Linked DNA regions of Homo sapiens. The protein of the gene in region 7 purifies or fractionates together with the protein of the main gene of each other region. This does not show direct contact. Each region holds a gene or a part of one and is shown on either strand. Other genes may lie near its edges.

Region 1 (2,748 bases), on a different chromosome or scaffold from region 7:
GGCAGGAACGGATTCTGGCCCTGGCCAAGCGACTAGCCATGCTGCGGGGACAGGACCCCGAGAGAGGTGAAGGCTGGGGAGCAGCTGCTCACTGGTATCCCTTGGTCAAGGCCTCCCTGGCAGGGCTGAGTCAGGTGCTGGGGGTATTTGCGCCCAGAGATCTACTGAGCCCAGCCCAGAGCCACAAGGAAGGTGGTAGAGCAAAGCAGTGGGTGAGGAGTCAGGGGCAGCCATGAGGGCAGGGGACCTTCAGTCCATTCAGGGGCTGAGGCTTTCGCTCCAGCCCCCAACCTAGCCCTCAGGCCTGCTTCAGTGATGGCCCAGCCCTGCAGGGCTGGGGCAGGCAGGGACAGGTCATCAGGGTGGCTGAAGAGGCTTCTCAGCTCTGGAATAAGTGCCCCTGGGAACCGAACCAGTTCTGGGAGGCAGGAGGGCAGCCACTCATGTGAAATCTCTCACTCTCACTCCCCCATCCCCTGTTCCCATGTCTCCCTCTTCAAGTGACCCTCCAGGACTATCGCCTCCCAGACAGTGATGACGACGAGGATGAGGAGACAGCCATCCAAAGAGTCCTGCAGCAGGTGGGCCTGGATTACCCACCTGCCACCCCTTGTCCCGTCTCCGCCTCATTGCCCCACCTCTACTCTGGGGCTGGGTGGACAGTAACTGTGAAGCTCCTGTTCTCTTTGGGCCCCCTCCTGTGACCCAGACCCAGACCTGCCCACTGGTCCCTGGAGATAGGGAATCAGCAGCCACAGGCCACAAGTAAAGAAAAAGATGAGTTTGAGAAGCTAAGTCCACAGTGCACAGAAATACTGGGAGATGGAGGGCCTGGGCCTGAAGCAGGGGAGTAGTACATCTTCACCCTGTCCGCAGCTCACTGAAGAAGCTTCCCTGGATGAGGCAAGTGGCTTTAACATCCCTGCAGAGCAGGCTTCTCGACCCTGGACGCAACCCCGCGGGGCAGAGCCTGAGGTGAGAAAAGCCCCAGATGCAGACCCCCAGGCTCCCCCCAGCCTTGCTTCCTGCCTGGCTGACTGCTCCTGCAGCAGCTCACATACCCCACTGGGTACCTTACTTCCTCCATTCCTCTCTGATCCCTGAAGGCCCAGGATGTGGACCCCAGGCCTGAGGCTGAGGAAGAGGAGCTCCCCTGGTGCTGCATCTGCAATGAGGATGCCACCCTACGCTGCGCTGGCTGCGATGGGGACCTCTTCTGTGCCCGCTGCTTCCGGTGGGTGCAGGTGGAATGTTCTGTGCGAGAGCTCAAGGGCTGCCTGGATCCCTGACTTGTATCCCTTTGTTCCACAGAGAGGGCCATGATGCCTTTGAGCTTAAAGAGCACCAGACATCTGCCTACTCTCCTCCACGTGCAGGCCAAGAGCACTGAAGACACCCTGGTCCTCCCGGAAGGGCAGTCCCACAGGCAGCGGCACCCATTTCTGGGCCCAGCCACAGGACGTCCGATGGGAGAGCTTGTCTGGCTCTACTGATGATGGATAGGCCCCTTCCTGAGCCTTGGTGTCCCTGGAATGAGGAAAGATTCTCCATTCGAGAGAATGACTGGGAGGGAAGAAGTCGGGGCCCTCCTATTAGAAGCCCAGACTGGAAGTGAGAGGCATGATGGGGAGAGACCAGACTGAATCTACGGGTGAGCCCTGTAACCTGGCTCTAGGGCACAGGCCCCTCCCCTGGCACTTAGTGGGTCTAATAAAGTATGTTGATTCATTGGGCCCAGCATCTCATTTCTACAACCCTATGAGCCTGGGCCCTGTGAGAGGTGGCAGGAACAGAGCAGGCTGTAAGCACAGTTGTGGGGAATGGGGGAAAAGGTTGAGCCATCCTATGAACTTCTCCAGGCAGGAACAGCCCTACCCATCCTGGTGGCCTCATACGAAGTAAACATGTATTCATTCAACTCAACTGTGCTCCAGCTCTGGGCAGCCCCACTTAGCCACCAGTCCCCACCATCTTGGATTTCTCAGCCTCTCTACTACTCACACAATGCACGCAGGAACAATGCACACACACCCTGCTTCCTGCCTTACTGGCAAAGGACCCCAGCTCCTAGGGCTCCTGTCCCAACCTGCCTGCCATTCAGTCTCAGTATCTCTCTTCCAGTAATGCGCCCTAACCGGACCCCTGACCTCTCGGCATGTACCCTTTACATGCCTCTGCATTGCCTCTGCTGTTTCTCTTCCTGCCCCTGGCTGGAACCAACTATAAAGAGCCCTCGGGCTGAGGTCTACCTCCTGCATCACTTTTGGTTGGAAGAGCCTTTTCTGAGGCTCTCAGATCCAGCTAGGTTTTTCCTGTTACTTCCTCTCTGGGATTTGAAACTAGTCTTTGCCATTGGCGTCCCTCTTGTTGGTTATGCCAGTAGGCTGTGTACCTTAGGCAGATAATGTCTGCTTGGCCCCGAGGCCTTGCTAGATTGTGATCTCTCTGAAGTGGAGCTGTGACTTTCGTCTTTGAATTCTTGAGTCCTTTGGATGGATGGATGGATGAGGTGTGTGGGCACAGCCAAGTGACTTAGGTTGTGGCCTTCCTGTGTATCACTTCATTCTCTCCTCCCCTGTCCCTCAGCACAGATATGTTCCACACTCCATTGAGCTGGGGCTCCTAAAGGTTTTATCCACTTGGCTGCCAAGGAAGGCATTGGACAACAGCCAGCTTTCTCCCAGAGAGCCCAGCTGACAGAAACTAGCTGTGACCACACAGACAGTAGGAGTATGCAAATGTCCCTCC
Region 2 (3,500 bases), on a different chromosome or scaffold from region 7:
AAAAAAAATTAGCCAGATGTGGTGGTGCACACCTGTGGTCCCAGCTACTTGGGAGGCTGAGGCGGCAGGATCACTTGAGCCCTGGAGGTCTAGCCTGCAGTGAGCAGTGATCGCACCACTGCACTCAAGCCTGGGTGACAGAGCAAGACTTCGTCTCTTAAAAAAAAAGAAAAGTAGGGGAAAACAATCACCTGTGGAGGAGAATAAGGAAACTCTAAGTATTATCTGTTCAATTTTTCTGTCAAACTACAACCGGTCTAAAAAATAAAGTTTATTAAGTAAAATAGTGAATAAAATACCATTTCATGGAAGATTCACAGCTATGTGAAATAGACAGATGGCATACAATATAACATATAGGATGATATCACTTCCACAAAAAACAGACAAAAATAAGGCCGGGCGTAGTGGCTCACACCTATAATCCCAACACTTTGGGAGGCATAGCTGGGTGGACTGCTTGAGCCCAGGAGTTCAAGACCAGCTTAGACAGCATGGCAAAACCCCGCCTCCACAAAAAAAAAAAATACAAAAATTAGCTGGTGTGGTACTGTGCACCTGTAGTCCTAGCTTGTTGGGAGACTGAGGTGGGAGAATCACTTGAGCCCGGAGGCAGAGGTTGCGGTGAGCCAAGAGCGCCACTGCACTCCAGCCTGGGCTACACAGTGAGACTCCATCTCAAAAAAAAAAAAAAAAAAGGCTAAGAATAGCCAAGATGTCGTACAAAATACAGTTAGGATTGTTAACAGACTGAATGTTTGTATTCCACCACCATCCCCTGCCCAAACTTTCATTTGCTGAAATCCTAACCCCCAAACTAAATGCAGAAACCAGCATGCGTGAAACAAACAGGCAAAGAAACCAAAAAAAAACTCTTTTTGGCATAATATTAATGGTAATAACTTACTAAAAATTCAAAAGAGGAAGAGCCAAGCAAAATTCAGCCTAATGATAAATAGATGGTAAAACTATGAAGAACCACCTTTTAAAAATGAGGACCTGGTCACCTGTGGGTACAGACGGGAGACAAGATCAGGACATACCAGAAATGCCCAATGCCCATTTATGAACCTGGGTAGTGAGTCCACAGGTGTTTCACACAACCCACTCTCCTCTCCTCACAGTGTGGAAATGCTCCCTCCTCCAGGGTCTCAATTCTCACCAGCGAACACTTACCCAGAGCCAGGTGAAGGTTCTGATCTCTAGTGTCTTTTTTCATATACCATTTCTGACACCAAATGTGTGGTGTTTGCTGAACACAACCAAATCTCCAATTCTCCAACACCAATTAAGCATTCAAATCAATTCTGACACTACCCAGAGTTAACGGGGACCCCACAAGTTCAGGGCTCATTACCATAACAGTGCCCCACTGCAGATGCCAGTCACAAGCCCCAGGGATCACCCATACTTCTCAGCAACTGCATATAAATCAGAAATGGCGAAATGGAAGGGATGGATGTAAGGGAAAATGGCGGCAGAAGATTGGGCAGGTATGTAATCCTGGAAATAGCTATGGTTAAAGAAACTCCCCCGTCTTTTGTATTCTGCAGGAGCAGGTTACGCAAAGAAACACTCTTCTCATTATGACTTAGATGACACTGCTTTTTTACCTATGACAAAGCCATACACAGACTAGAAATTCCCTTTATTTTCCTCACAATTGATTAGCTGAACAGCTCTGTCTTCAGTGATCAGTCAGAACAAAGTACCTGTTAACAAAACTTTGGTTAAGTTTCTCTTCTTCCTCCAGCCCCTGAACTTTGACCCACCCCCAGCCTGAGCCTATATACAACCCCTCTGATGACCCTCCTAAGAAGAGACTGCCTTCAGGATCTAGGTGGGATTTTGCACCCTGCATCCTGCCTTCCACCTCCCACCTTCTTTCTCATCATTTGCTCCTCCCTACAAAAGAAAATCCTTTTCTGCATAAACTCTGAGATGCTTGCAGATTTTTTTTTTTTTTTTTTTTTTTTTGAGACAGAGTCTCACTCTGTCGCCCAGGCTGGAGTGCAGTGGCGCGATCTCGGCTCACTGCAACCTCTGCCTCCTGAGTTCAAGCGATTCTCCTGCCTCAGCCTCCCGAGTAGTTGGGATTACAGGCACGCACCACCATGCCCGGCTAATTTTTGTATTTTTAGTAGAGATGGGGTTTCACTATGTTGGTCAGGCTGGTCTCAAACTCCTAACATTGTGATCCACCCACCTCGGCCTCCCAAAGTGCATGGATTACAGACGTGAGCCACCACGCCCAGCCTGAGATGCTTGAAGATTTTATACTTGGTGCCTTCTCCCCTTTCGATTATCCTTTAGAATAGTCATTCCTGTCTGGTGTGGTGGTGCTCCCCGCCCCACCCCCATAATCCTGGAATTTGGGGAGGCTACGGTGGGAGGATTGCTCGAGGCCAGGAGTTAGAGACCAGTCTGGGCAACATAACAACGTCCTGTCTCTCTTAAAAAAACTTTTTTAAAAATATAAGCCAGGCATCATGGCACATGCCTTTAGTCCTAGGTACTTGGGAGGCTGATGTGAGAGAATTCCTTGAGCCCAGGAGATCAAGGCTACAGTGAGCTATGATCGCACCACTGCACTCCAGCCTAGGAGACAGAGTGAGACCCTGTCACACACAAAAAAAATAAATAAATAAAAATAAAATAAATCACTCCTTACCTAAATCCAGATTTGTTTCATTAGAAACGTCTACAAACAGACCCAAGATAATAGCAAGTACATTCTCAGAAAGGCATCACCTCAACCACCTCTGCCTATGAATCCCCAGCTTTCCAGGGCTCTGAGCTTCTCTCACTATAAAGGGCTCCACCCAAAGTCAGTTGTGAGCAGCTGGGACACTGCAGGGGAGGCTCCTCAGCAAGAACCACTGGGCCTGTAATGTCCTCTCTTTGAAGGCTCAAGATTGGTCTTAGTTTCAAGTCACTAGTCTGCTGTCTCTGTTTCCCAGTCAAGGTTATGCATTTAATTTTCAATGAGAAAATACCCAGGGTTTGAAGATTCCAGTAAAATCACTCAAATTCACTGTTTATAGCAAGGAAGGAAATTGTAAGGCACTTATATTTCATACCTTAACAGGAAAAGTAAAAGTATCCATCCTCTTCAGACAATAAACATGTTATTTATTCTTTCTATGGTAACAAATCATGTACTAAATCATATTGGAACACTTCTAGGAGTTACCAAGTCCTGTCCTACTAGGACTTCGCATTAAACTCTGATGTCTAGATAACAGGAAGAGAACAGTTATCCACTGTCACAAGTTTGCCACCCTGCAAAGCAGAGGAATTGATGTTTTGGTGAATCTCTGTAATTCACCAATTTATTTGCTACACTTACTTGTGGAAATGTATTCATTTTCTGCAGTCATGATAGAAGAGAGTTTTCTCTCTCTCTTTTCCTTAGTATTCCCAACACTAAGCCCTGGAATTCCATTTTAAATCACCACACCCCACCCCCACAAAAAAAAACAACATACTTGAGAAACTTA
Region 3 (3,500 bases), on a different chromosome or scaffold from region 7:
CTCTTGAGTCATGTCTGAGAAGTGGAACTGGGCACAAAGGAAACTAGATGGATAAAAGTGAGTAAGTCAGTGCAGATCTGTTACCCTATTGGGAAAAAAAACCAAAAACCATCTCAAGCTTCATCTTCTACTCCTCATATGACTGCATCTCTATACCAACTACATCTTTCTTTATTCAAGAAAATTGCTGTCTGCCAAGATTCATCCAAGCATGAAGAAATTCATCAAGGTGAAAATGGGCTTAAATTCTCAACAAGTATCTTCTGTGTGTGTCAGCTTCTGGATGCAAACTTTTAGGATCTGTTTTTCAACACACCACCAGAGGAGTACTTAAAAATCAGTAAGTCAGAAAGATAAATCCAAAAACACAAACTCCTCTTTTAAAAAAAGGAGAAAAAAATATTAGAAGGGGTGTTTTTTAATATTCAGAATTTTTTTGCTCCCTTCAGAAAAGTCTTAGTTAAGGTTAAATTATTTTTCTAAATCAACATTGCATGGATTATGTTACCATTGATTAACTATTTTTGCTAGCTTTCTTCTTGCTGTACTTCAATTATAGCATTGGATGTATGTTGAACATGTCAATTACAGAATACAAACCAAAGGCTTTTTTTGTTTTTATTTCTTTTCAACATCTCACTGGCCTGGCAAGAGTCAATGAGTCACACCATCGATCTCCACATTTGCCCTTTGCTCTACAAGTGTTGTACTCACCATGAGGAAATACCCAATAAGCAGAACAGGCATTAAGAGGATAATTAGTAGATAATCAATGAAGGTAAATTTTTTCTTCACAGCATAATGCAAGCAGGTTCTCTCTTTCTAAAAATTAAGAAAAGGATTCTTTACTAATAAAGCATTTCAATTCAAAATTTATTCAGATGGCCATCTCAAAAAGTTTAGTTTGTGCTTTTTGTTTTTCCGGTACCCATGGCATCTTTTCCTGTGGGATACATCTGATTACTGAATGCGGCTTTCCATGGAGCAGAACAGAGAACTCGGTCCAGTGTAAAGGAAAAGCTAGGGAAGGGCTCCTGGGAGTCAACAAAGGTGAAATGTACACAGCAGAGCTCATCAGAAGACAGATTCTTATACCCACTTAGTTTTTGGAAAAAAAGATACACTGAGATATAAACTTAGGACTGAATTTACTATGAAAATTGATAGTTATCCCTTAATCATCTACCATGTGTACGATTATCCATTTTGTGGTTTGTTCATAGGAAAACTCTTAACCACATGGCTGTTTTTCATGTTCCTTCATGTGCATAGTCTAGAAGAATGCATATAACTCAATTTTATTCTTCAAATATGTGAATACTTATCAGGTAATAGATGTCAGCTTCCAAGGGTTGTGGGAGATGTGAACTCTTAGGGCCTCATAATCAAAGATGGACAGAAATATGCACAAATAAATATAAGGCAAAACAGAAGGTGGTAATTGGAATACCAATCAAATCAGTAAGAGGAGAGGGAGCCCAAGAGAAAGAAAGGAGGTTAGTTTCCACTTATGCAAGGCACTGTACCTAAATAAGAACACTTTTTGTTTTTCTAATATGAAGGCATTTATATTTTCTGTAAAAAAATTTTAGAAACTAGAGAGGAACATAACGATAGAATTTTAAATTGCCCATTATTATATTAAATGGTCCAGAGTTAACTGTTGACATTTTGTTGTATTTTCTTCCAGTCTTCTTAAATGCATAAATGTGGAATTTTGAAATGTAGAATGATATTGCATATGCAATATCATATCTTGCTTTTTTCAGTTCAGAAACGTATATTTAGAATATGTACATTTTTCCATGCAATTCAATATTTTTAAACATATGATTGTAATGGCTGCATGGCTTAGTATTGAGTGGAACTACTCTGATGTATTTAGCTAAGCCCTGCCTTTTGAACATTTCATGGTTTTTGAGGGTTTTGTTTTTGTTTTTGTTTTTCTGTGAGACAGGATCTTGCTTTGCCACCTAGGCGGGAGTGCAGTGGCACAATCCTAGCTCACTGCAGCCTTGACTTCCTGGTCTCAAGCGATCCTTCAACTTCAGCCTCCAAAGTAGCTGGGACTACAAACATGTGCCACCACACCTGGATAATTTTTTACTTATTATTATTTTGTGTAGAGATGCGGGGGTCTTGCTATGTTGCCTAGGCAGGTCTTGAACTCCTGGTCTCAAACTATCCTTCCACCTTGGCCTCCCAAAATGCTGGGATTCCAGACATGAGCCACTGCACATGGCCCGTTTCAAGTTTTAAACTTTTCATTTTTATAAATAATATTGCCTGAACCTGCTCATTCATAAATTTTTGTCAACATTTCCAAATTTGTCCTTTGCCTACATTTCTAAAAATAGAATTCCTGGCATAAAAAGTATTAATGCTTTTCATATTGCGCTATCAAATTGTGTTCTAATAAGACAATAATAACTTAAACTTTCTGATCAACATTTGTTTTCTTTTTTAATCTTGGTCAGTTTGACAGACAAAAACAAGGATCTTTATGTTTTAATTTAATTTGCTATCAATAGAATCCATAGGCTTGTGCTTCTGAATCTCCAGCAGAGCTTTTTGTTTGTTTGTTTGTTTTTAAGGTGTTTGTTTGTTTAGTGTTTCTGGAAATAATTTATAAACAGATTTCAGACATGAGAAATCACAGGTTCAAATTATTAATGTACAAATATTAATATTTGGAGAAAATAAAAATATTAAATGCTAACATTAGAAACATTTGAAAGTGGAAAATGCAAACCAAAAACTTCTACTGATAAAATCTATTAATCTAATGTATCCACTAAAGTCTTTTTCATGGTTTTTATGATACCAGAAAATCCCAGCAGGCTGGCTGAGGCCCTCCTCTTCTGCAAAGCGGAGATAAAAGTGTCTCCTCAGCCTTGCCCATGGGCTAACGTCTCCTCCCTCAGTTTCCTAACGAGCGCACCTCTTAAAAGAGCGCAGGAACCCACAGACATCTGTCTTCTGGCACTACCACTCACTGCAACTCCACATATCTGGTTTCACAGCAGTGATCTACAGAGATCCTATTATAGTCCACGATGTTGCATATCTGTTCCATTCAGCACAGGCATGACTTGCTTTTAATCGCAACCAAACCAAAAATAGTAAGCATAAATAAAAAAGTCCAGTAATGATCAATTTTCTGATAATACATTGTTACTCCTGATGAGCTAGTCTCCAAATGACTTAGAAGGGGCAAGGGGGGATTTCCAGTGTTTTCTCGCCTTGAATGCATATAAGTGGGTACAGGACAGTCATAATGATTGCAAAAAAATGGCTTAATATTTATTCAGTGTAATTTAAATATTGCCTTCACTACGATGCAAATGCTAGATGTTCAGAAAGGGCTCCACAAGGATTTTCACAGCAATACACACATATTCTTCTCTTTCTTGGTCCTGAAGGCTCCAAAGTAGCTAATATTGCATCTTTAAATATATTCTTTACACCTTTTTGTGTGACTTCAAGTAACCTCTGGCTCA
Region 4 (4,156 bases), on a different chromosome or scaffold from region 7:
TCAATCCTGAATGTTAGAAATATGTTGTTTATTGCTCAGAATCAACATATCCCCTCCCTGTAACACAACAACACATACAAAGGAGACCTCATCCTGAGGACATACGGTCCCCTATGCTGCCGACCACACCAGGGACAATAAACTCCTACAGGAAAACTCCCACTCCCCTCCCGGAGAAGCCCACACACACGCTGCAGCAGTGGGGAGCTGGGGTGGGATGAGCTCCCCTTTAGGGCACAGACCCAGGCCTGACCAAACCTCATGCAAAGGCTGGGTGCGGTGGCTCATGCCTGTCATCCCAGCACTCTGGGAGGCCGAGGTGCGTAGATCTCTTGAGCTCAGGTTTGAGACCAGCCTGGGCAACGTGGTGAAACCCCATCTCTACCAAAAGTACAAAAACTTAGCCAGGCATGGTTGTGCACGTCTGTGTGTCTGTGGTCCCAGTTACTTAGGAGGCTGAGGTGTGAGGATCGCTTGAGCTCAGGAGTTCGAGACCAGCCTGGCCAACATGGTGAAACCCTGTCTCTACTAAAAATTCAAAAATTGAGCCGGGCACACTTAAGTTTACACGCTTAACCGCATCATAAAGTTGCAAGCAGTACTTGGAATCATCACTAATGAAACAGCAAATGCATTAGACTTACTGGCCCAGCAAGCCACAAAAATGAGAAATGCCATCTACCAAAATAGATTAGCTTTCGACTACCTCCTAGCCTAGGAAGGAGGAGTATGTAGAAAGTTTAATCTAACTAATTGCTGCCTAGAAATCAATGACAATAGGAAGGCTGTTATAGAAGTAACTGCAAGAATAAAAAAATTATCCCATGTTCCAGTCCAGACTTAGACAAAGTAGACTCCCGAGTCCCTCTTTAGAGGCTGGTTTTCCTCCTTCAGTCGATTCAAAACCTTAACAGGAGTGGTTCTAGAAATACTAAGAATTGGTTTAATACTCCCTTACCTCACCTCTCCTTGTTAAGAACGTTCAATCAACTATAGAAGCAATTGTGACTAGGCAGACTACCACTCAGCTAATAGCTCCATATAAATATCAGCCTGTGCCTAAAGAAGAAAACCTGCTCTTTCATGAAGAATCCAGTAATAGTGGTGCTTTCTATTAAAACCTTATTTATAAAAAGCAGCAAAGGGAGAAAACTGAGGCAGAAATTTAAAAAATCAATATGCATTCATTCACTCCAAAAAACTAACAGGCAAGGCAAGGGTTAAAAAGAAAAGAAGAACAAGTTTTCCTCTGCCTAGCAAGCTCACTTCAAGGACAGTTATAAGATAACGCTTTTTGTGCAGCTGAAGCCAAAGGAATGAGCTCCAGAAAACCCCACTTTAGAACAAGAGTGAAGAAAAAAAAAGTCTGTATTTAGCTGTTCTTGTTTTTCTTTCAATGCAGCTACAAGACCACCAGCTATGCAAGGCCACAAGTTATGCTATGCTATAGATTATGTGACCAATCATTACATGATTAACTGCTTTTATTTTGCTTCTGTAAGCCTGCTTATAAAAACCCCACTCTGTCTTTGTTGAAATGCTCAGCTTTTTAGATGTAAATCCACTGAGCCGGTGCGTACCTTAAATAAACATCGTTCTGTCTCCCGCATACCGGTCTCTCTAGTACTTAGTTTCCCGCAACACCATCTCTGCGCCTCCTCTGCTCTCCCTGTTACATTCTCTCTTCCCTGTTATACCCTCATCCCCACTCTCTAGCACCCCAGATCCCCAGGTGTCCTCCCTGCTGTGCTTCTCCCTCTGTTCTCCTTGCCACCAGCACCACTCTGCTCTGTCTGCCCTGGCTCCAAATCCCTCCTCCTCTCCCTCACTCTGATGAGCCTCCCTCTTTGCTGTCCCTCTCCCTACCTTGCTCTCTGTCCTTCATCTCTCTGTACATCTACCTTTTCTCTACATTTCTCCAGTTGCTTTTCTCCTCCTTTTTTTTTTTTTCCCCCACATTTGCTGTGTCTGGCAAATCCCTCACCCATCCTCTACTTTGCCATCTGTTATGAGTCTTTTTTATTCTTCTTTTCTGTCTCAGGTTTTCTACTGCTCTACGTCTGTCTCCTGATCCCTTTAGCCTACACAAGCACCGGAGGCTTTGGATAAGACACAGGAGGGTTTGGAGCAAAACGCCTGCATCCCGGGGGAGCGCATTTTCCAGGGGCTGGAGCTGGGCAGGCAAGAACACCCCGTGTCACAGGACAGGCCCCGGGCACCTCCCTAACTCGGGCTCAGGGAAAGCAGTGACTGTGGAGGCGAACCTGGGGAGCAGTAGGGCCCGCAAAAGGAGGGAGGCGGCGGCGCCACGGCGCCTTAAGACAAGGGTGGGGTCTGCAGGATCCCAGGACCAGACAGAGGACGCGGCCTCCTTGGGGCTGGGGCCGCCGCGCTGCGTCCAGCTGCCAACGAGGGCGAGACTGGGAGGCGCTCAGGGAGGGAATTCACCTCTCGGGTGAGGACTTTAAAAAGCGCGGGACGGGAGGAGTCAGAAAAAGTTTCAGAGCAGGAAAACTACGTGATAGAAAGTGTATACATTGCCCTATAGCAGAAACACCCGGGACGGGACCAGCCTCAGGGGGACCTTAAACCCAAAAGGAAGCGACCCCCGGACTCTCACGGGGTCGTCTCAACTTGCTCTGGGTGAAGGAAGACGGCTGAGAATTTCCAGGTTAGTGGAGACCCCACGCCCCAGGTACAGAAGCGCCAGGGACCTGGGAAGCACAGACTTAATACAAAACAGAGCGAAACTCACCCGCGGCGGTGGGATAGTCACTCCACGCCGTCCGCTTCCGGGTCTGCGCGAAGCTGCGCGCGCAGGAAAGAAGCCAGGCCTGGGCGGGACCCGCGAGGAGGTGGGCGGGCTTGGGCGAGGTAGGGGCGGGGCAGAGAGACTTTACCCTTTAGAACCGACAGAGGGCGGGGCTGTGGCGGGACCTGTGAGTCTCTCAGCCTGGCTCCCAGGGCCTCAGTTTTCGGGTTTTGGAGGCGAGACCGGCCAGGAAGGCTGAGGCATGATTCAAAAGCCCTGGAATTGTCTGGAACGGGGATGCAAACTGGAATGTAAAATGCAAAGCCCTGCCTGGATGGAACGTACGATTTCATGCTGACAGCCCACAAAACAGAATAGAAATCCTCTCCCTTTCCAGTCTCCATTCACTTGGGAGGGAGAGTCCACCCTGTGCTCAGCTGCAGAGACTTCCCTAGGGCCACCGCCTGGGATGTGGGACGGAATGCTCAGGCCAGCGAGGAGTGAGGTCACCACCTTCTGGATAAACACAGCAGGGATGTGGGCGCGGGCGCGGGAGACTGAGGTCCCAGCTACTCAGGAAGCAGCGGCGGGAGGATTGCTGAGCCTGGGGGTCCAGGCCAGCCTGGGCGACAATGTAACACCCCCTCCCGCAGGGCTCCCTTCCTCGTCACTCTCTCTTTTTTTTCCTTTTTTTTTAAACGTTTTAAAATAAGAGTTTGATTGTGTGAGATAGGGATCTAACAGTATTCTTTTCCATGTGGATATCCAGTTAGTTGCCTCAGCACATTTTTGGAAGAGATTTATTCCTTTATTTATTTACTTATTTCTTTTGTTTTGAGACAGAGTATTTCTCTGTCGCCCAGGCTAGAGTGCCGTGATGGGATCTCGGCTCACTGCAGCCTCTGCCTCCTGGGTTTCAGCGATTCCCCTGCCTCAGCCTCCAGAGTATCTGCAATTACAGGCGCGTGCCACCATGCCCGGCTAATTTTTGTATTTTTGTAGACGAGTTTCACCATGTTGGCCAGTGTGGTCTCAAACTCTTGACTTTAAGGGATCCACCTGCCTGGGCCTCCTCAAAGTGCTGGGATCACAGGCGGGAGCCACCGCGCCTGGCCAAATACTTTTTACTTCACTTTCTAATTGTTAAGAAAATACAATTGAAAACGAAACAAAAAAATCTTCCCCCAAATGACAAAACATCTCCATGACGATAATAGAGAAAGAAATAAACACCATTTTATTAATAAGTAAGCCTTAGACCAGAATGTGATGGGAAATAGAGGCAAAGAGCTAAGAGGTTGAAAAAAGAGAAAGACACTTCACAGTTCTATACAACCCATTAAGTACATGTTTTCAAGATAAACACTAATCAGTCCTCAGGGAAAAGGACTTGACAACACCCTT
Region 5 (3,500 bases), on a different chromosome or scaffold from region 7:
TTGTTTTTTTTTTTTTTTTCCTGGGGCCATGTAGAGCAAGTAAGCTTTGGTGGGCAAAGCACACTTCAGGGGATCACTATAAATGGCAAATAATTTTTTAATGATATTTACTTGCCAGAAACAAAAAATTTAAACAGGGTTTTAGTACTGAGTTATTAAATATGGCAAGAAAATAAAGCATATAGCGGAATTAGAATTAGTCATATAATAGAACTTAAATCTGTTTTGCAGTTCTTTTAAAAATCAGTGTGATGTTTTATAATGACATTATCTGACCCTGATTTTTGGAAAATACAATAAGAATCAATTTCATACCTTGCTGTTGAATAATCTTAGAAGCTAATTGAGAAAAGGAATTTGAATTAACAGAGATATTAGGTGACAAGACTGAGGCTCCAGGGTCAAGAATGAAAGTAATCAAAATCAAGGAAAGGTGGAAGTAGGCTGTTAGCTTCTCTCTTGAGTTCTGTTGCTGCATTTTAAATGCCTTGTCCTTCTATAGTTTGATCTTTTATTTTGAGTCCTGGCTCTTTTTGCATATGTTCTTGGTTTGGGGGCAGCTCCAAAGAGAATTCTAATTTTCTTCTGAGGGGCTTTTGGAAACGATGCCTTTCCTTAGTTCTTCCTTCTTGCTACAGGTGTGTACATGCAGCCACTCACAGAAATCAGAAGAGGCCCTGAGAAAGAATTTGTTCTAACCGATCACTCAGCATTTGTTGCTAGTTGTGCCTGACTTTGCCTCCAAAGGCCCCGACCACCATTCCTGATAGGTCAGATTCCTTTCTCAAGCCACACCTCTCGAGCAGATTGCTACACCCGAATCCCCAAACTGGAGTTCTACAGCATCTTACAAGAGCCCTTTGGATTTCTGGGACAATTGCTGATACCATAACTGGGCCTCCTTCCTGAAGGTTTGTCAGTCAAGGGAGGGACAAGTGCTAACATAGCTGTGGTCACCTCTTAAGGATTAACAGCCTGGAGTGCCTGGCTGGCAGCTGTCCTGGCTCATAGCTGGGTATTTTTGCTGAAGAGGTCGGCCTGTTATCCTATAGGAAAGGCCATCGGTGAGGACTCTTGTGTTCTGGCCTGGATTCAAGGGGAGACACATTCCAAAAGCCCTAGGACACGAGGACCATCCTGCCCTCCAGAATGCCGGAATTATATCCGAGTTCCCCTTGGAACTTTCAAGGGTATCCTTTTAAATGTAAACTCCTCTGGGACAGTGGTCTACTGAAGCAGCTTCCCTTAGGTCTGGGGAATGGGACAGAGAATGGACATGGGAATGGAATAAAGAGGAAATGGCAGGTAGGAGAATTTCACAGAGACGAATTTCTTCAGTTTTTCCTTCAGTCAGGTCTGACCTTATCTTTTACTAGCACTCCAGAAACTGGGCCACCTGGAGTCAAGGAGAGGCAGAGAAGATAGATTTTGGTAGGTTCTGTTCCTCTCCACTTTCCTCTTTCAGTGGATGGCTACCTCCTTTAGCATCATCATCATTCATTGCTTTTTTTTTTTTTCGAGACGGAGTCTCACTCTGTCTCCCAGGCTGGAGTGCAGTGGCACAATCTCTGCTCGCTGCAGCCTCGGCCTCCCGGGTTCCAGCGATTCCCCTGCCTCAGCCTCCTGGGTAGCTGGGATTACAGGCACATGCCACCACGCCCAGGTAATTTTTGTAGTTTTAGTAGAGATGGGGTTTCACCGTATTGGCCAGGCTGGTCTTGAACTCTTGACCTCAGGTGATCTGCCTGCCTCGGCCTCCCAAAGTGCTGGGATTCTATACAGGCATGAGCCACCACGCACAACCCACTCTCCTAATTTTGGGGCTGTAGTTCAGCAAGCGGAACTCTGACGCCAAATCTTACAGACGTAGGCAAACAGATATTGCATGTGGACTGAAGATACTTTTCAGAGGTCTGACTGTTGTTTCCTACTTTTTAAAAAGGTGTTTTAAAAGCAAAAGTACTGCTGTTTGCTTTGCACTCTAGTTTTAAAAACTTCTCTACAAAGTAGGAGTTCTATAAGCTTCTCTGTTAAATCTGACCAGTGGGCCTATGTCATTGGCACAAAGCATGACTTTGGCAAATAACAATTTCCCATCTCCAAAGTCCCAAGTCTGTTCACAAGGACTCCCTGGTGACAGAACTCATGGGGTGGGGCCAGGGCAGAGCTACCTAAATACAGATTTTGATTTTGGTCAGTAGGGACCCTGTGGTGTTATTGGGAGTCATGACTCATCATTTGAGGGCCAGGTCGCAGCCTGAGACCTTGGGGTAAAAAGACTATATATCACAGTGAGGATATCAGGAACCTCCACATCCTGACATCCTCACATTCCAAGGATTACCCTGGATGATACAACATCCCAGGGGATTCCTTCTTTTACAGTCACAGTGCAGGACTGAGGAGTTGCCAACGGGAACTGTTAAACACATACTGATTCTATCAGATTTTGAAGATAAAAATGCTTCTAAAGCATTCTCTTGTCCTTTAAAAGCATATTCAAGATGTTTGTTTCTATTTTTGTTACCCTGCATGTCTGTATTGTTACATGCATAAGAACAAATGCATATCAGTATGTAAAAACACATACACACACACATAAAGAGAAAGAGAGAGAGAGAGATTGAAGGGAGCGCCAAGTTCTAATTATTCGTGAGTGAATACTCTGAGGCAGCTCGAGGTTTTTGTCAGGCCAGCAGGGCTCTTCACTAATGTTGAGGCAAAATTTGGGCCGGGAGTGTGATTTTAAAAAGAAAACTGCTTTTATTAATTTTATTTGCAGTACACTTTGGGGTTGTCATCTAATAAAATAAAATACTAAAGAATTTAGGCTAATAATTTTTCTTATTCTCAAAAGAATTTTTATATCTGAATGTGTTGTTAACTCTCAGACTTTGGAGCAAATGAAGGGAAAAAGAAGCACACATGATAAATAACACTAATGGCGGAAAAAAAAATTCAACTGGCTAATCCTCCCATCACTGAGGGTGACTATCAAGCACCCTCAGAGATTAATTCTGTCACCCAGAACTTTCTGGGGCCTGACCAAAGCCTTCAGGGTTGTTTATAATCCGGTAAGACAGAATCTACTAACAAATAGTTGAGAGTTAACCTTTCTTTACCCAGTAGATATACTTCTGGAAAGTTGCTCATAAAGTGAATAATATTTTAAATGTATTTAGTGGTTTTGCTATTGGAGACAGTCTGGGTGATTTTTTTGTTGTTGTTTGGTTTTCAATGAATAATCGTAGGCAAATTGATCTACTTTGTATAATACTTCTGGATTTTGTAAGTCAGATTTTTCTTCAGTCCCAGATTTTCGCGCCTGTCCCAGTATACATAGCCACAACACAGCAGCTGAGAGATGCCGCTGGGTGCTACTCACATTTTAAACCTCTCCACACTAGCAGGATTTCCTCATCCTGAGTTCCTCAAAGTAAGGAATGGCTAAGAAGGAGGAAATGGGATGGCTTGCTGATTGATGGATGATCTTTCAGTTT
Region 6 (4,283 bases), on a different chromosome or scaffold from region 7:
CCCATTAGTTCCTTAGTAGCTAGCCATCTCAGTTACCAGGTTGACTACTGTAGTATAGCAGTTGCCTGTGCTCAAGAATGCCTTATTTTACTTAATAATGACCCAAAAGCACAAGAGTAGAGACGCTGGAAATTCAGATATGCAAAGAGAAGCCATAAAATAAAAAGGTAAAAATTCTTGTCTTAAGGAAAGAAAAAATAATCATATGCTGAGGTTGCTAAGATTTACAATATAAATTATTTTGAGAGAGATACCACATTCATACAACTTTTATTACAATATATTGCTGTAATTGTTCTATCTTATTACTAGTTATTGTTGTCAATCTCTTACCATGCCTAATTTGTAAATTAAACTTTATCATTATTATGTATGTATAGAAAAAGAAAACCATAGTGTATACAGGGTTTGGTACTATTCATGGTTTCAAAGTATCCACTGGGGTGGGGCGCGGTGGATCACTTCAGGGCAGGAATTTGAGACCAGCCTGGCCAACATGGTGAAACCCCGTCTCTACTGAAAATACAAAAATTAGCTGGGCGTGGTGGCACGCTGTAGTCCCAGCTGCTCAGGATGCTGAGGCAGAATTACTTGAACCCGTGAGGTGAAGGTTGCAGTGAGCCAAGACTGTGCCACTGTACTCCAGCCTGGGTGACAGAGCGAGATTCTGCCTCAAACAACAACAAAAACAAAGTATCCACTAGAGCTCTTGGAACATATCACCTGTGGATAAGGGGAACCACTGTATATACAGATCTTTGTGAAGAATACTGCTAACAACCCAAGAGCAATCACTTATTCAGGGCTCACAATGAGCCCAGCACTGGAGTTCCCTGCTCATCCTTGGAAATTTCCTGCTCAGATGCAAACATAGCTGAACTCTCACCTTTTCCTGCTGACAGCCACTCACCCACATCTCCCTTACTAGAGATAGAAAGAAAAGAATAAAGACCAAAAAACCCTGTTGACTATTTTTTCCTTTCACTTTTTGAGAAGTGTTAATAGAACTGAAAATACCAGCAAGGAAAAACGCCCTCGAGGAATAGAGTTAATTGGATCTCCAAAATGTTGTCATGAAAGGTGCATTCCTGGGATATGAATTTGATTTCCTTCCTTTCTTCCTCTCTCTTTCTTTCCTCTCTCTCCCTTTCCTTTCCTGTCTTTCAAAACCATTCGCACTCCTTTTATGAGGCATGCAGATCTTGGATTATTCTTCCACTTTCCAGCCAACTGCACTTCAAAACAGCCTTAATAAGGCTGGGCACGGTGGCTCAGCCTGTAATCCCAACACTTGGGGAGGCCGAGGCGGGCGGATCACCTGAGGTCAGGAGTTTGAGACCAGCCTGACCAACATGGACCTCGTCTCTACTAAAAATACAAAATTATCCCGGCGTGGTGGCGCATGCCTGTAATCGTAGCTACTAGGGAGGCTGAGGCAGGAGAATCGCTTGAACCCGGGAGGCAGAGGTTGCGGTGAGCGGAGATCGCGCCATTGCACTCCAGCCAGGGAAATGAGAGTGAAACTCCGTCTCAAAAACAAACAAACAAACAAACAAACAAAAAAAAACGCCTTAGTAACAGTGCCCTCAAGAACCTGGCCTTCCAGTTCTCTGGCAGAGAAGACCTACTGCTGCCGCTAGTCCTCAAGATGGCATTTGCTGGAGGCGGTAGGCAGAGGCCCTAAGTGTGGATTCTAACCCCCGTGGGGACTGAATCTCTGCGGCTGTTGCTTGCCCAGGCACGTTTGCCTCCCATGAACTTCCTTCATCCACAGGGCCCCAAACCTCATGCCGGCGGGAGGAGGAAGGAGACTGGGCATAACTCATCAGACTTTCGACTGTAAGAGCTGGAGGCCGCCTGCGGGCTTATCTGTACCCGGGCCTGTCCCCACCCTTCCAGAATGTAAATCCTCTGAGGGAATGTGTCGTCGCCATCTTTCAGTCCTTTGAGTGCACCCAGTCTCTCTCCAACCCAAAACCCTTTATCCACAGCAATTCTGAGAATGATGAGAATCCCCCTCACCCCTCACACCGCAAACAGTTGCAATGCTTAGTGGGATTCACCCTTGTCGTCACCAACCCTGCTACTCCAGCCACGTGAGTTTTCCGCCTGTCAGCCAAGCAAAATGGCCTTCCTGCAGTCGCACGGCCCTTTGGTCTCTGCTCAGGGCTTCGGGGACCCTTTCCAGCCATTGCCCTGCACCTACCCACCAGATCGCCGCCCTGGTGGGCGCTCCTGGCCCTGTCCTCCGCGCTTAGTTTGTCATTGGGCGCCCAGATCCGGAACCCCAGCCTCGAAGCTTCCGGTGGCCGGGAACAAAGCCGGTTTTGCTCACTGTCGCCTGGCAAAGCAGGCGCTTGTTAGCACCCACTGAATGCGCTTATGTGCTCAGAAACGGTCCCATTGGTTGGGACTACCTTCCCCGATGCCCATCCGCCCAGAATCTTCCTTCTGGGATGCCGACTTTTTCAACACGTGCCAGGAGCCCTTCCTCGGCCCGGAATCCCCAGAGTGCCCACAGTGGACAGGGCACCTGGATACACCCCAGACTAACCCACGTTTCCCCGGAGGACCCCAGAGGTTGGAAGCCCCTCCAAGATTAGGGGCGCAGTGCTCCCCTGGCCTGCGGAAGAGTCAGAGGAGTGGGGACAACATCCAACATCAGCCTCTACTACCGCTAGCGCGACTCCCCGCCGCCGCTCTACTCACCTGACGCGCGCAGTGGACCGCGATTTAGGGGCACAGGGTCTCCCGGGGACCAGCGGCTGGAGCGCTCCGGCCGAGCACCCGCAGTCCCGGCGCCGCGGCCCCACCCCGGCCCCGCCCTCTTCCGCTCCCTCCCAGTCATCAGGCCACCGAGAATGTGCCCCTTGACCCAGATGAGAGGGTGAGCCCGCCAAGGTCAAGCTTCCCATCCTAAGAATCACAGACAGCCCGGCCATGCACCACCACTTCGAGCCTCCGACCAACTGATAGCTGCTGGTCCCAAGTAGCGCTAGGATTTTCGCTTTCCCAGTCTTAATTGACTCTAAAAGAAGAAGAAAAAAAAGCCTGGGCGCGATTGCTCACACCTGTAATTCCGGCACTTTGGGAGGTCGAGGCTGGTGAATTACCTGAAGTCAGGAGTTCAAGACCACCCTGGCCAACATGGCGAAACCTCGTCTCTACTAAAAGTACAAAAATTAGCCAGGCGTGGTGGCGGGCGCCTGTAACCCCAGCTACTCAGGAGGCTGAGGCAGGAGAATCGCTTGAATCCGGGAGGTGGAGGTTGCAGTGAGCCCAGATCACGCCACTGCACTCCAGCCTGGGCAAAAAGAGTGAAACTCCATCTCAAAAAAAAAAAAAAAAAAAAAAAAGAGGAAAGTATTTACGAAAAAAAAAAAAAAAGACCAAAGTATTATGATTAAAACACGCGGCTGAGAGCGGTGGCTCACACCTGTAATCCCAGCACTTTGGGAGGCTGAGGGGGCGGATCACCTGAGGTCAGAAGTTCGACCTCAGCGTGGCCAATATGGCGAAACCTTGTCCCTATTAAAAATACAAAAGTTAGCCGGTGGTGGTGACGCACACCTGTAATCCCAGCTACTTGGGAGACATTGCCGTTACTGGGCAAGTGTTCTTTCAAGAGCATCTTATCTGAATTACTATAGTACTAAAGAATGTCTAGGCTGGGCCCCCGTGGCTCACTCCTGGAATGCTAACACTTTGGGAAGCTGAGGAGGGAGGATTGCTGGAGGCCAGGAGTTCAAGACCAACCTGGGCAACATAGCAAGACCCTTTCTCTAGAAAAAATGAAAACAACTTGGCCAGGTGTTGTGGTACATGCCTTTAGTCCTAGGTGCTTAGGAGGTTGAGGTGGGAGGATTGCTTGAGCTCAGGAGTTTGAGGTTACAGTGAGCTATGATTGCACCACTGCATTCCAGCCTTGGCAATGGAGTGAGGCCCTATTTCTAAACAGAACAAAAAAAAAGAATGCCTGCTGATAAACCTTGTGACAGGACATTCATGAAGGATGAAGAAAAGATTTCTTTTATTTTTTTATTTTTATTTTTTTGAGACAGAGTCTCGCTCTGTTGCCCCGGCTGGAGTGCAGTGGCGCCATCTCAGCTCACTGCAACCTCCAACTCCTGAGTAGCTGGGATTACAGGTGCGTGCCACCATACCCGGTTAATTTTTTTTTTTTTTTTTTTTTTTTTAGTACACACAGGGTTTCACCATGTTGGTCAGGCTGGTCTCAAACTCCTGACCTCATGATCTGCCTGCCTCAGCCTCCCAAAGTGCTG
Region 7 (3,500 bases):
CCTACAGAAAAGAGACTGCTTCATCTGTTTCCTGGAAATGCAGCATAAGGAAATAATATTAAATAAACTCTAACTAAAAAAAAGTCTATTAATATCTAATCAACTGCTAATTATCTACAATGGCAGAAGATATGGGAATATTTTTAAAGTTTCCACATAAACAATGTTGATTTTTATAATAGGCTCATCTTCTGATTGTTAAATTCTGGATAATCATAAAATTCACCATATTATCTAAACACTCATCAGCTGGTAATTAAAAAAGAGTAACATGAAGGAAAAAAATACTAAAAACGTGTCAGCCTTGAAAATAGTTTATAAAATACAGTCATGTGCCACAAAATGAAATTGTGGTAAATGATGGATCACAAACACAATGGTGGTCCCATAAGATTATAATGGAGCTGATAAATTCCTATTAGCCTAGTGACTTCATAGCCATGGTAACATTCACAATGCATTACCCACATGTCTCTGATGACGCTGGTATAAACAAACTTGTTGTACTGCCAGTCTTGTAAGTATACCACAATTATGTACAGTACCTAATACTTGATAATGTTAATAAATGACTATGTTACTGGTTTATGTATTTACTATATTATCATTATTTTACTACTTATTTCAAAAAAAGTTAAATGTAAAACAGCCTTAGACAGGCCCTACAGGAGGGATTCCAGAAGAAGGCATCATTGTCAGAGGAGATGACAGCTCTAAGCTAGTTACTGCCTCTGAAGACCTCCCAAGTGGGACAAGATGTGGAGGTGGGAGACAGAGATACTGATGATCCCAACCCTGCTAGGCCTAGCCTAATTGTGTGTGTTTATGTCTTAGTTTTTAACGAAAACATTTAAAAAGAAAAAAAATTTAAATATGAAAAGCTTATAAAGATATAAATACTTTTGTTCAGCTATAAAATGTGTGTTTTAAGTGTTATGATAGTGTGTTTTAAGTGCTACGATAGAAGAATCAAGAAGTTAAAAAAACTTATAAAGTAAAAAAAGTTCAGTACATTAATAATGAAGAAAAAGTATTTTAAAATAAATTTAGTGTAGCTTAAGTGTACAGTGTTTATAAAGTCTATAGTAGGGTACAATAATGTCCCAGGCCTTCACATTCCCTCACCACTCATTCACTGGCTTACCTAGGGCAATTTCCAGTCTTGCAAGCACCATTCATGGTAAGTGCCCTACACAAGTGTACCATTTTCTGTCTTTTATTCCATATTTTTACTGTACCTTTTCTATGTTTAAATACGTTTAGATACACAAATACTTACCTTTCTGTTATAATTGCCTACAGTATTCAGTGTAGTAACATGCTATACAGATTTAGAGCCTAGGAACAGTTGGCTATACCATATATCCTAGGGGTGTAGCAGGCGCTACTATCTAGTTGTGTGTGAGTAGTCACTCTGATGTTTGCACAATGATGAAATAGGCTAAAAATTTATTTCTCAGAATGTAACCCTGTTGTTATGCAACACATGACTATAATTACTCACACAGCTATATTACTGTTAACAGGTCTTCTTTCATTAGATACCAGAAAAATGTTGTTATAGACTACAACTGGAAATCCTTCTACTTTATTCCTTTCCTTTTTCAAGAAGAGTTAAGAAAGCTCCAAATCTTTTTTTTCTTTTTTTGAGACTCGCTCTGTCACCCAGGCTGGAGTACAATGGCACAATCATGGCTCACTGCAGCTTCCACCTTTTGGGCTCAAGGATCTTCCCACCTCAGCCCCCCGAGGAGCTGGGACTACAGGTGCATGCCGTCACACCCTAATTTATTTGCTAACTTATTTATTTATATAGAGATGGGGTTTTACTATGTTGCCCAGGCTGCTCTAAATCTTTTTTGAAATAAAGCTTTAAGTAGTAAACTTTGGGAAAACAATTGTATTCAAAATTAATCCAAAATTTAAAAACAATCCCTTTAAGAAATCCGGCAAAGGCGTAGTTAATTTCCCTGTTTACTAATGAAGACTCACATTTGAAAGCTTTCCAAAGAAGACAATCTGAAATAACCTCATCTTAGATTGAGTAGCTTAAGATATTACAGTGAAGTCTTCAGTAAAGTACCATTAAAAAAAATGTGCCTAATAAAAAACAACACTTCCAAGTCTTAGATGTAATACATAGAAGAATTTAAGAAATTAGCCTGAACTTTATTTCTCTAGGTTAAGGGGAATTAAGGGTAATTTGTAGTAGTTCCTGTAACCATTCAATAACTTCTGTAGCTCTGAAAATTAATTATAAAGACTATGTTTTATAATTTTGGCCAAGTCATATAGATCAGAAAGCCAGATAGATATATTTGGGCTAAACAGAATGCAAAATATTAACAGACTCATCCAAAGGTGCAGAAAACTTCCTGGAGGCCTCTAGAACTGAACTATCAAGCCTGAGTTAGGATAAATTGCCATAAACAAGACTATTCAAGCTTTGGGTAGAAGGCTATACATAAAGGTTCCCTTCAACCCTAAAATGATAAAACATACACAAATACAAACCAAAGCCAGACCAAAAACTGTTTAAAAGTAGTTCATGAACCTTCAAAATGTTCCAAAGTGGCTACATGCACAAATGCTTCCCCAATGTAAATGATTTATCTTTAAACATCAAAAGGATGGTCCTCATCTCACTGGAAATAAACAAGACAAAACTAAAAACATCTTTTTACCTTATTAAAGTAGTCCAGCAGGAGCGGCCATCTAAGCAACGTAAGTAACAACTTATGGTTGTTTTCTTGAACTGTTTAATATCTTCTAATTCTTCTTCTCTCATATCTGGCCTCTGAGCTATAAACAGCTGCATCAGGTTAAACAGTTCTTCTACTGCCTAAAAAAGCCAAATAAGCCATATGATCTTTTAACCCTATAGCATTTTAGAAGGTCAGTTTCTCATTTCTACGTTCATTAATCAACTCTTAAAATTATACAAATAAGCTAGATTATACTTCCATTCAGAAAGTTATAAAATCAGTAACAAATTCTATTTAAAAAATTTTGGCTGGGCGCAGTGGCTGATGCCTAGCACTTTGGGAGGCAGAGGCGGGCAGATTGCCTGAACTCAGGAGTTCGAGACCAGCCAGGGCAACATGATGAAACTCTGTCTCTACTAAAATACAAATAATAACAATAATAATAAACACTAAAAGAACTCAACAAATCTTAAAATACAAGTTTAGAAAGAGTAAAAACTGTAAGTGAATACAATTCATTTTTAGTCTTATTACTGCTTAAAGCACTACTTTTGTAACTTCAAATGTAAACCCAGAGGCATGCCACACCATCTCCTATCCACTTTTTCTTTAATTAATGAGAAATCATTACTTTGTCACAAAGATTTTAAATGCCTAAATAACCCTTAAATTAATAGTGTATATGAGGTAAACCTTTGTTCCAACATTTAAAATGCTTTTCTAGAATGATGCTCAGTTCAATTTCCTGATGAATAAAAAGTAAAAACAAATATTTTAGTAAAATCACTAGCTGTG

Evidence for each region.
Region 1: the proteins of USP34 (region 7) and ZFYVE19 fractionate together in Homo sapiens (co-fractionation; one large-scale study listed by BioGRID). This does not show direct contact.
Region 2: the proteins of USP34 (region 7) and ZNF627 purify together in Homo sapiens (co-immunoprecipitation; one large-scale study listed by IntAct). This does not show direct contact.
Region 3: the proteins of USP34 (region 7) and ANKRD22 purify together in Homo sapiens (co-immunoprecipitation; one large-scale study listed by IntAct). This does not show direct contact.
Region 4: the proteins of USP34 (region 7) and ZNF765 purify together in Homo sapiens (co-immunoprecipitation; one large-scale study listed by IntAct). This does not show direct contact.
Region 5: the proteins of USP34 (region 7) and PTCHD1 purify together in Homo sapiens (co-immunoprecipitation; one study listed by IntAct). This does not show direct contact.
Region 6: the proteins of USP34 (region 7) and ZFP57 purify together in Homo sapiens (co-immunoprecipitation; one large-scale study listed by IntAct). This does not show direct contact.

Annotation. Positions count from the first base shown.
Region 1 is NC_000015.10:40,812,837-40,815,584, forward strand, and holds the end of ZFYVE19 (abscission/NoCut checkpoint regulator), read left to right. Parts: coding exon 1-66; intron 67-501; coding exon 502-581; intron 582-876; coding exon 877-975; intron 976-1,106; coding exon 1,107-1,234; intron 1,235-1,311; coding exon 1,312-1,390; 3' UTR 1,391-2,248; downstream 2,249-2,748. UniProt on the Homo sapiens protein: Key regulator of abscission step in cytokinesis: part of the cytokinesis checkpoint, a process required to delay abscission to prevent both premature resolution of intercellular chromosome bridges and accumulation of DNA damage.
Region 2 is NC_000019.10:11,600,483-11,603,982, reverse strand, and holds part of ZNF627 (zinc finger protein 627), read right to left. Parts: intron 1-3,500. UniProt on the Homo sapiens protein: May be involved in transcriptional regulation.
Region 3 is NC_000010.11:88,827,845-88,831,344, forward strand, and holds part of ANKRD22 (ankyrin repeat domain-containing protein 22), read right to left. Parts: intron 823-3,500; coding exon 715-822; intron 1-714.
Region 4 is NC_000019.10:53,393,793-53,397,948, reverse strand, and holds the start of ZNF765 (zinc finger protein 765), read right to left. Parts: upstream 2,801-4,156; 5' UTR 2,756-2,800; intron 7-2,755; 5' UTR 1-6. UniProt on the Homo sapiens protein: May be involved in transcriptional regulation.
Region 5 is NC_000023.11:23,386,849-23,390,348, reverse strand, and holds part of PTCHD1 (patched domain-containing protein 1), read right to left. Parts: intron 1-3,500. UniProt on the Homo sapiens protein: Required for the development and function of the thalamic reticular nucleus (TRN), a part of the thalamus that is critical for thalamocortical transmission, generation of sleep rhythms, sensorimotor processing and attention. Can bind cholesterol in vitro.
Region 6 is NC_000006.12:29,678,353-29,682,635, forward strand, and holds the start of ZFP57 (zinc finger protein 57 homolog), read right to left. Parts: upstream 2,801-4,283; 5' UTR 2,710-2,800; intron 1-2,709. UniProt on the Homo sapiens protein: Transcription regulator required to maintain maternal and paternal gene imprinting, a process by which gene expression is restricted in a parent of origin-specific manner by epigenetic modification of genomic DNA and chromatin, including DNA methylation.
Region 7 is NC_000002.12:61,209,088-61,212,587, forward strand, and holds part of USP34 (ubiquitin carboxyl-terminal hydrolase 34), read right to left. Parts: intron 2,843-3,500; coding exon 2,685-2,842; intron 1-2,684. UniProt on the Homo sapiens protein: Ubiquitin hydrolase that can remove conjugated ubiquitin from AXIN1 and AXIN2, thereby acting as a regulator of Wnt signaling pathway.